Linked DNA regions of Homo sapiens: region 1 is linked to region 2. The links come from fine-mapping of genetic effects on gene expression. A gene starts in region 2. The other region holds a variant in brackets. All regions are shown on one strand. Distances are from middle to middle.

Evidence for each region. PIP is the estimated chance that this variant, and not a neighbour inherited with it, causes the effect.
Region 1: its variant is fine-mapped to the expression of PIRAT1 in whole blood (TOPMed, PIP above 0.99).

Annotation. Positions count from the first base shown.
Region 1 is chr2:37,824,560-37,829,936 of GRCh38, reverse strand. It overlaps PIRAT1 (PU.1 (SPI1) induced regulator of S100A8 and S100A9 alarmin transcription 1), which reads left to right. Exons shown (of 4, transcript NR_110012.1): 3 at 899-1,004; 4 at 2,059-3,690. Among named protein-coding and RNA genes, the nearest start is that of PIRAT1, 49 kb to the left of the region's middle. The variant C/T (reference allele first, on the strand shown) is at 2,491.
Region 2 is chr2:37,872,838-37,878,214 of GRCh38, reverse strand. It overlaps PIRAT1 (PU.1 (SPI1) induced regulator of S100A8 and S100A9 alarmin transcription 1), which reads left to right and starts at 2,352. Exons shown (of 4, transcript NR_110012.1): 1 at 2,352-2,472.

The sequences.
Region 1 (5,377 bases), 48 kb after region 2:
GGGTGTCAATCACTGATGTCCATAATGAAAAGTGTCAGACTCCAAAGCAAACTCAGGAGGACTGCCTTCATGGTATGGATCCCTGGCAGATTTGAACCTTAGAGGATTAGGCTAGCAGCTTGTGGAAGCGGATGCAAATCTTCCAATCCTCTAAGGGCAGATGAGCCTCTGGACTCATGAGAACGCTGGTCTTGGTAAAAATCCCCTGCATACCACAGGCCTCCCTTGGAGAAATCACCTAAAGAAACACCAGGAAGAATTCATTCTGGCCTCAAATAGTTACATGGATGTTTGTTACAAGAAGACACATTTAACCATTGAAGTTCCTACTCATTGAGTGAACCGTGTCTCCCTCCTCTCTGGTTTCCAGAAACAAGGATTTTTTTCTAAACTCCTCTTACTTCTTGCCTCATGGCTAATGCCCACGGAGGTGGGGTGAGTGACCTGCTGGTAACCAAGGGAAATGAATCTGCACAGGAAGCCCAGGCCCTCCCTCCCTCCCTTCTCATTAGAAGCCAGCTTCCCCTGGAAAACAACCACATTCTGCTCTACTTTCTCATGTCTATGTGGCCCTCCCTGAGTGGGAAGGCTTAAGTTTTGTAAGATTCATCATAAGTGTGGTGATATTTCCTAATTCCAGGGAATGGAGCTAGTCATGCCACACATCTTTGCTGTTTTCACGAACTGAGGTAATTTTTATTTTTATTTTTATTTTTTTGAGGAACAGTCTTACTCTGTCACCCAGGCTGCAGTGTAGTGGTGTGATCACAGCTCACTGCAGCCTTGACCTCCTGGGCTTAGGTGATCCTCCCACCCTAGCCTCCCATGTAGCTGGGACTAGAGGTATGTGCCACCTCACCTCCTTTTTTTCTTTTCTTTTTCTTTTTTGGAGAGACAGATTCTTCTTATGTTGCTATTTTAAACTCCTGAACTCAAGTGATCCTCCTGCCTTGGCCTCCCAAAGTGCTGGGATTACAGGTGTGAGACACTGCACCCTGCCCAAGGTAATATTTTGACCTTCCTTTACCTTATTCTTTGTCCATCTCTTAATTAGTTTATAACTTAGACGGGAAAAAAGAGGTGTCTAAATAAATAAATAAATAAATTTATTTAAATAAATATTAAATAAATCCCATCAGTTCCCCATAGAATGCCATTTTCCCCTAGCTGTCTATTCATGTAACAAAACGAACAAGAAAACACTACAAATTCTCTCCCTATTTATACTGTCCCACCATTATGTTATAACTCTCATTATAATGTTTTAGTTTTTCCTTGAAATAATAATCATCAACCCATTTGTAAACCATATGTTTCTACCCACAAGTGACAACCAGAATTTCAGGATTAATTGCAAGAGCCATAAAGAGCTTTTTGGTCATTTCCCTAAGAGCCTCCATGAATAGTAACAAGGGCGAATAGTAACCCCCGGCTTCAGCTGTCCCCACTGCTGTGGCAGGTTATGATACTTTCTTTCCTAAAGTAAAGGCCAAGACAGATGGCTTTTCAGGACTTCCAGAGTCTGTATGACATAAGAAGCTTATTCCAGTAAAGGGAACAAGACCCTTGTCATCTGACACCAATGAGATGCTCTTCCCTTGGCTGGCAGGGATCTGGAGGAGGAGGAGCAGATAACCTTCAGCCTAAATAAGCAATACCATCATTATTCTGGAATCTCTCTGAAGTATGGTTGGTTACAGTGTGGAATTCCACAGGGCACGTGCCTGTCTTGGACTCTATCCAAGGGAGTAAGTTATCACAAGGACCTCATTATAACAGGGGCTCCAGGGACAGTGTCAGTCAGCAGGCTTCAAGGTAGCTGCTAAAATTCTGGTGCTGGTCTGTTTAATCACTGCATGCTTGTTAATACAGTCAAGCCTCAGTTACAACAGAATCAACAGCCCAGTTTGTCACTCATCCATTCCTTGTTCCGTCACCGCCTGGTTGAGTTTCTGGCTTGTTTATGGGGCAACTCTGGGTGTCGGGCAAAATGAATGCCTCTTGTTTGAAATGCCTAATCCCGAGGTTTTTCACCTATGTGTTGTTTTCTCCCACCAGCACCTCTGCTCCGTGCCATGCTCTTGGCTAATTGGAGTTGTGAAAGGCATGAGGATTCTGGTCATGGACTCAGCTCTCCCATAGGGTTCTGACACCAAAGCAATGGTCACAACAGTGAAAGGAAGAATCCATCTGGCCAGGCTCAGGTGGTTCAAGGCCTTCAGAATCTGCCTTGAGACTCTCACTGGCTTTAGACTGAAAACCATCTTGGCCCCGTCCATCCGTGTAAGCAATTTAACGACAGCTTGCAAAGCACCGAGCTTTAACAGAAAGAAGAGATGAGCACAGCGCAAGAACTTGGACTCCAGAAGAGCTGCCTAACAGATTATTTTTCTGTGGCATTTCATGAGAACAAACGAAGTAGGAATTTTCCTTTTGTTTGTCTGGCCTTTGGCATCGTTTACTTTCTTTTTATTCTTCTGAAATGTACTT[C/T]GAGCCCTGGCAGCATTTCTGTCCTAAAATCTTATTGTCAGAGGTTTATTTTTCAGCTTTTCAAATCATATCTGATAGAGTGAGTGTACTGCCTGGACTCATCACTTTACTTCAGAAGAAATACAGCTCACCCTTTAAATGACAATGGTGACTGTCCACATCTTTATGTTTTCTACACTGAAGTGGCAGGCTTCATTTAAAAATAATGTTTTCCCTCATCAAAAGAGAGCTAGGGTAGAACCGTCAACTCTGCTGTTGTCTGGGTAGTGACCTAACACCCACGTTTTGGACAATCACTCACTGTCTTATATTGGGTTTTCATTGCATGTAGGATAATTCTTTGTCAATGGTAGTTTTGTCAACCGTGATCTGAGGTAATGAGGTTTTCTACTTTTGCTTGAAATTTTGAAAATATGCAAGCTTTAAACATTTGCAAAGTTGGATTCTGTTTTCTTTAGAAAGCAATCTGATTTGCTGATATTCTCTCCATCTGTCAGGGGATGCGTGATGTGGTGTAGACTTAATGTGCTGCCTTTCTGGAACATGGACAGAGTAGCAGCACAGAAAAATGAGCATTTCAGCTCTGTGATGATTTGTGAAAAAAAATCTCAGATCATTGAGCAGGCATTTTGCTGACACCTGTGAAAAGTAACCACATGAGAGAGCATGGCGTGATGGTCGGAGGCCACGTGCTGGAGCTGGACTGCTTGAGTCAAATCCCAGCTGCTCAGCTGTAGTGAACTGAATGGTGGTCCCCAAAAGATACATGTATCTCCTAATCCCTGGAACCTGTGAATGTGACCTTATTAGGCAAAAGGGTCTTTGCAGATGTAATTACATTGAGGCTCTCAGAGATGAGAACATCCTGGATTATCAGGGTGGGTCCTATATCCAATGACAAGTGTCTCCTTATAGGAGACAGAAGAAGTTGCAGACCCGGAAGAGACTAAGTAAAGATGGAGGCAGAGACTGGAGTGAGGCTGCTGCAGGCCAAAAATGCCTGGTGCCAGCAAAAGCTGGAAGAGGCAAGGAAGGACCTTTCCCTGGGGCTTTTGGAGGGAGTGCAGCCCTGCTGATGCCTTAGTGTTGGATATCTGGGCTATGGAACTATGAGAGAGAAACTTCTGTTGTTTTAAGCCACCTAGTTTGTGGTACTCTGTTATGGCAGCCACAGGAAACTAATACACTCTTTACCACCTGAGTGACCTTGGCCAACTTACTTAACCTCCATGAATCAGTCCCCTCAAAGGACCACCCTCCCCCCAGGGTCACTGTGATGATAAAGTGCTTTAGCATAGGTGACTGGTTTAGACCAGGGCCTGGTACCTAGCACATGCTATGCCAGTGTTTCTATCATGGCAGCAGCAGATGCAGTGGAGCTTAGATTTCAACTGTGTCCATGCTGGTTAGAAAAGTCACAGTCTGGGACACAGGACACTTCTGGAAGAATCTCCCTCAGTGGATCCCAGTGTTCCAGCAATGTTTTCCAAGCAGCTGAAGAACAGGAAGCAGGAACAGGGTTCCCTACAAGAGCCATTATTCAGATGCCTCTACATCTGACTGGTTTCGGAGAAGTGTGACTTCTGGAGGTTTATGTGCTGGGACTTTAACAGCATACGTACTAAAAACCACATTTATGTTTCCTCAAATGCTGGGCTCTCTATGAGCCTTGACCTGCCTGAGAAGATTAGAGGCGGCTGCCTAATCTGATCAGTCAACTCAGTGAAACAACTGCATTGATTAAAGCCATAAGATGTTAGGATTCTCTGTTCTTGGTGGCCTAAAAGGTCCCATTCCTTTCCCAAAGTGCTTAGCTTGATCCCATCCCAGGGAACAATTTTGGGTGGAGGAGAACCTGGCCACAGATCATAAGATCATGTATGACTAAGTCTACTTGCCTTCATGGAAACATACATGGAGTTTTGGGCAATTTCTTTGAAGCCCCTCTAGAGGCTTCTAAAGATTGTTTAGTGCCATCTGGTTTTTAATCCTGGATGTCAAACTTGTTGATTTTTGCCCTGGACCATCTGTTTTTCAACTTCCCACGGAACCTTTCCTTTGGGCCAAGTAGGGAAAGAAATACTATATTTTTAATTCTTTTTGTTTTGCCTTCTCATCCCAGTCACAGCATTAGAAAGGGAAAATCGACTGTCTGACAAAGCTCTGAAAGACTGGACATGAAGTGCTGGCCTTGCTATCTGCAGGGCATCTCCCTATAGATTGGATACCTTTTCCTTCACTCTCTGATAAAAAGTGAGACAGACTGAGCATAGTCCTGTGACCATTTAATGCCTGTGCCCAGAACATGGGTCTGTACCACTTGCAGGAGTCACAGTGGGGAGGAGCAGGGACCTTGGGGTCTGCCTGCCTCTGTCTGAATTCCAGCTGAGCCCATTCCTAGGCCAGTGCCTGGGAAAGTTATCTGACCTCTGAGATCCAGTCTACTAGCCTCACAAGTGAGACTGTGACAACACTTACCTCAATGAGGCACTGGACATCATCTCATTTAATCCTCAACATGCCTCAGTGTCCAGCATTTAACAAGCTCCCATAAACATTAGTTACTCTCATTCCTTAATATGAATAGCATTTAAAATAATAAAGTGGGAGAGAGCAATGCTGCATGCCCTACAACTGGCCAGAGAGCTTGCAGCAAGGAGAATGCTTAGGTGGAACATACAGGCCTTTTCTGTGTTCATCCCATTCCAAAGGATTTGGTGTTGCCATATATGGAACATGAAGATTAGAAATGGCCATTTCCAAACTGGTGAATCCCTTGGTGCCTTTTTCTCCATTGTGATTCATCCGGGGTACCCTCAGTTTTCAGTGGTCATGGTCATTCCAAACCAGCCATGAGCTGGGGGAACATTGTACTGTGGTAAACCCA
Region 2 (5,377 bases):
TTAAAAATGCTTCTCATTTAGTTGTGTAATCTTGGACACAGTACTTGCTAGCTCAGAGCCTCTCCAGCTCACAGGATTGCTGTGAAGCAAGCCCCCAGCAGAGGCTGATATCCAGCGTGTGCTCCATAAATGTCGTATAACAATAGCTGCCTTGATCTGCTAGCTTTGGGGTAAATTTTACATATGTCATTTAATCAAGAAAACAACCTTCTAAGTATAATTGTTCATATTTTGCAGATGAAAAGACTGAGGGTAAGAGAAATCACGTAGCTATTAAGTGGTTTAGCTGAAATTCACCCCATTTTTATCCTCTTCCAAAGTTAGTGCTCTTAAGAATTACATAAATAATTATATATTAAGTTCATTGTATTCTCCCTATAGGCTGCTTAAGAATACAATAATATAAGATAAAAATATGTGTACATGAACTTATATTTATCAGTAAGTACTGGGGTATAAAATTGTCTTTCCCTCTTTAAGCCCTAATGTTCATTGACGCGTTAACAATGAGTCACGATTTTATTTCTTGACAGTAGATGGCGCTGGTGATTGTCAAAAGAGACAGAGTCTCCCACACCCCTCTCCTTTCCTGAGCCATTGAAAAACAAAACAAAGAGCTGGTGGAAAAAAAACGCAAAAATTTTCATCGTAATGAAGGATTGAAATTAAAAATTTGGAACCGTCATGTGATTAAGCAGAACGTGTATATGATCCACACACTTTTATTTGGAACTCTAGGGAAAACCTCCTGAGCTATTTGTAAAATTTCATTCTCAGGATTAAAACAAAATATAGTAAAATTTGATTATCCAGACAAAAGATGGATTTATATTTCTCTATTAGACAGATTTTATTTCTGCACCTTAATTTTAGCAAGGGATGAATATTAAGACAACTATGAATTTAGTTGACAAAAAACTCACATATATCTGACTTCCAGAGTCCTGAAGGTGGTATAGAGGAGTATGGTAGTCAAGATAAAAACAAAACAAATTATTATATGACCTTTGAGTATATCACTTAATGTCTCAGGACAGAAGTTTTCTCATTTGTAAAACTGAAATATTTCTTGCCTAATTCACATGGCAGTTGCAAGGATCAAATACAGTAAAGTAGTATAAACACCTTGAGAATTGTCATGTTCTTTCCAAATATGCTTTTTTTCATCTTTACCATACAATCAACCCAACCACCTATAGGTAAAATCATAACACAAGGAAAATTGGAATTCAGAATAAAATACTTGAGCATTAAATTTCCTCATTGGTCCAAAAGCACTTTAATAGGCTTTGGTGAATTAGATTCGTGCAAGAAAAGGGACTAATGTATTTTCAACCATCAAAGGAGTGTTTAGCTTAATAATCAGCTACCCAGAAAATGAAACAGAAAAACACTTGAATCCAAAGCACCGAAGTGAACTGAAGCGGCCTCCACTGTCCTCCCCTAACTGTCCGCACGGCCTGTCCTCTGTAGGAGTGTCCTTGTGTACGTGTGGAGGTTGTGGACACACATGCCTAGGGTTACAGATGCTCTACAGACTTAACTCAGTATAGTGAAGCTGCAGAGATAGTCATAGCCCTAAAGAAGCCTATCTGAGAGCTTTCCTTTGGGTTTTACAAGAGGCATAGATATTTATTCTGCTCTTCTTTTAACAAAAGACTCCCAAATATTTGCTGAAGATGTAGAGTATTGCCATTTCTGCTTCAAAAGCTCTGAGCCTCTCACGGCACCTGTTGCTGCTGCCCCAAGAGCGGAACACACCCTCCACACCAGCAGCCCCAGGACTAGATTCAGCTTCTCAGTGAACCACTTCCATGCTCCACGATGTGCTCTGGGCTTTGGGGACTTAAAACATCGCAGCCGCGGCATAACAGAGATGCGTCAGCTTCTAAAGTCGTAGTGGGCAGTTCTAGAAACCTGACCCTTTCTTCTGCTGCTACAGATTCTATTGGCTTCTGGAGATTCAGAGACGTCCTTCCTCAAGAAGGAACCTCTGCCTGGCCTTCAGCAGGGCCACTGTCATGTGCGATATTCACTTAGAGCCTTATCACATTTGTGGCTGTAGAGGTGTTTGCGTGCCTTGTTTAATTTATCCCACTAGACTGTAAGTTCAGGGCAGATGGGGGATGTCTGGTTTTTGTTTTTTTTTTTTTTGCCTAATACTGTGTCCCCATGCTGGGCACAGACCTAGCACAGAGTAGGTGCTTGGCAAAGAGCTTTTGAATGAATGAATGATTGGCTGTAGTCTTCCTGGGAAAGGGCTGGCAGGCAAGGAAGTGTTAAACCAGCCACTAACCGCCCAGGCTGACCAGCCTTCTCCCTATCTCCCAGGCCTTTCGAACGGAGCCCGGGGAGGACAGGCTGGCAGAGGAGGGAGGAGGGTTTCTAGCTGAGAGAGACTGCGGCTGTGGGCCTGCAGCCTACCCCTCTTCAAGCTCTCCGGAGCCGTTCCTGCGAAACCAGCCCCCACAAGTGAGTGTCTGCGGCCCCCTCCCTCCTCTTTCCCTTATTGCTCCCTGTGGGGATGGGGCTGACACCGAGCTTGATCCTAAGTAAAAGTCTGTTCTAACAGGAAGCAAATAATGTTCCTCCCCTGACGGAGGTGTTTCCTTCTCAAAGAAGTTACAAAGGGCTCTTTTCAGAGAGAAAGGGGCTGGGAATAGTGTGTGGCCTCACTGCCGTCTGCCTTGGGTGGAGCCAGCACGTTCTGGAATCCAGGGGCTTCCTCTTCTAAAGAGGCGCCGGGCCATGCACTGAAACGGGGTGGCCCATCCTCTGGGAGCCCCAGTCCCCTTACCTGCTTGATACAAGCATCCTCTGGAAGTGCCTAGGGTCATTGCCAAGGCCCCTGTTTTCTTTTCTTGGCTTCCAGGACGCCGTAGTCTGTGTTCTTCCTCCCGCCCTGCAGTTCCCTAGCTGGATTCTCTTCCTCGCTGTGATCTCTTCATCCCTGGTTCCCCAGCGCTCTGTCCTGAGCCCCCTTCTCGAACCACACTCTCGTCTGAGTGAGCATATTGAGCTTCATGGCTGTACATTTCCTCCCCGTGCCGAGGAATCCCACACACTTAGTTCCAGCGCCCAGCTCGCCCCCACCTCATCCAGGTCCTTACATCCCCCTGCAGACTCTGTCTCCACTCCACCTCATTGGTGTTTCCCACTCACTAGATCTAAAGCCAAACTCTTGATCCTGACTTCTCCACCCACCAGCTTGCCTTTCTCTTCATCTTCCCCATCTCAGAGAGCGGCTCGGTCCCGAACTGTCTCTTTCCTTCACACCCTTCATCTAACACACAGCAAGGCTTCTCAGCTCTACCTTCAAAATCTACTCCTCATCTTTCTTCTTCCCACCACCGCCACTCAAACGCCCTCGGCCTAGAGGGATCAGACCCATACTACCTGGCTCCTGAACCTCTGCAAGAGTCTCTGATCTTTCTGCTTCCACTCCTGTCTTGCTACAGACTATTCTTCTGACAGCAGCCGGGGTGATCTTTTCAACTACCAGACCGTGTCACCTTGCTTAAAACCAGCTGGGGCTTCCCTCACACGCAGCATGACACTCAAACTCCACACGACAATCTAACCAGCCTCACCAACTGTGGCCCTGGCTTGTCCTTCTGACTTAGCTTCTGTCTCAGCTCAGGCTACACTGGCCTTCTTGGTATTCCTCAGCCCCCCAGCTTGTCACTGCCCAGCCTTTGCACTGTGTCCTCTCTCTGGAGTTCTTTCCCTCAGGTCTTCAGGTGGCCTTGCTCTCGGGCTTTCTGGAGAGACTTAAAAGCCATATCCATGGAGAGGCTGAGTTTGGCCACCTACCTAAGGTAGCCTCTCATCACTCTCCATGCCTTCGTCTGGCTTTCCTTTTGATTGAGCACTTGTTACTACTTGTGTTCAGCTCTTAGATGAGGGCACAAGGAACTCTGGCGGGTTTAAGTAGAAGAAGGATTTATGTGTAGACTTTGACAGCTCCAGGAATGTTTGGGAAGGCTTAGTGGTTTATAGCCAAGAAGAGTGCACGCATTGCACGAATTGGTGGGATCTCTGCTGCCCCAGCTGCCACTGGTTATGTCACCAATGCTACCGTCCCAGATACTAACACTGCTGGAACCCGCTGTCACCAGCACCCTTGGAATCCCCATCTTTCTGCAGCTGCTGCCATCTCCTATGAGGGCTTTCTCAGTCTCTTTGTCCTTGAGTCATTGGTTCCTAACTCAAATTGTGGGCCAGTGTGTCTGGCTGGTGGAGCCTTGGCCACAGGCCTTGGCTCCTTCTACAAGAGAGGCTGATAAAACCACTATCAGGCATTTTCAAATTCTATGTAATGGACCATGGGCTCTGCTTATCCACCAGATTCCATGAGGTAGGGAATCTCAAACATAGGATGGAGGTTCAGATTCTGGGTAACCAAAAAACAACGATAAGCATGCCCTTGACTAGCTGGCTTTCTAGTATATATTTACGTGTTTATGTGTCTATTGCCTAGCTACTACATTAGAATGAAAGCTAGATGAGGTCAGGCACTTTGTCTTTTTCCCTCTGTATTCCGAGAGTTCAGAACAGTGGCTGCACAGAAGTGACCCTTGATAACTACTGAATGAATATCAGATACTGTATTGAAGGTGTCAGCAATTAGAAAGATTAAACAGTCTCATTGTTGCTACCATTCCTTCTTTAGGTGGCTGATGCTCCTGTCCCTCTTCTGGCCTGATTGCTCCCTCTCCTGACCCCTAAGGTAAAAGCCAGCCAACTTGGGAGATATAGTTTGCCGGTAAAAGAGACAAGCAGACAGGGTCAGGTGCTCCATGCCAGGAAAGGAAGCCAGTTAGTGACAAAGGAGAATCCCAGGGGACTTCAGGGAGGGAAGACATGGCTACCGAAGGGCACAGGGCCAGGGCATGTGCAAATTATATTGTTGAGACAGTGAGAATGCCCTACCTTGCCTGCCACTTCTTTGAGGAGAAGAGAGTAGAGTCGCAGGAATGAAGGCTCCTTTTAACCATCCTGTGCCTTCAGACTCAGGGAGTCTGATGGAGGTGGTGGGGTTGGGGAAGGGAAATGGGGGAGGGAGTACAGTGGCTGGAGAGCTGGGGTCAGTAAACAGAAGGCATGGTGGAAAAAGTTCCCATTCTACCTCCTTAAGTTTCAGAAACCTGTTGTTTTCCAAGCCCAGTGACTCCCTCTGATATGTAGCCTGCAGGGGTGGAAAGTGTCTGAAGTGTCTGAATGTGTGTGTGTGTGTGTGTGTGTGTGTGTGTGTGTGTGTGTGTGTGTCTGTAGGGTTGGGAGGAGAGCAAGTGGAAAGAATGAAAGCTTGCCAGGCTAGGTAGGGAGGAGGAGACGACAGTCTTGCACTGCCAGGGGGTCACAGTGCTATCCCGTT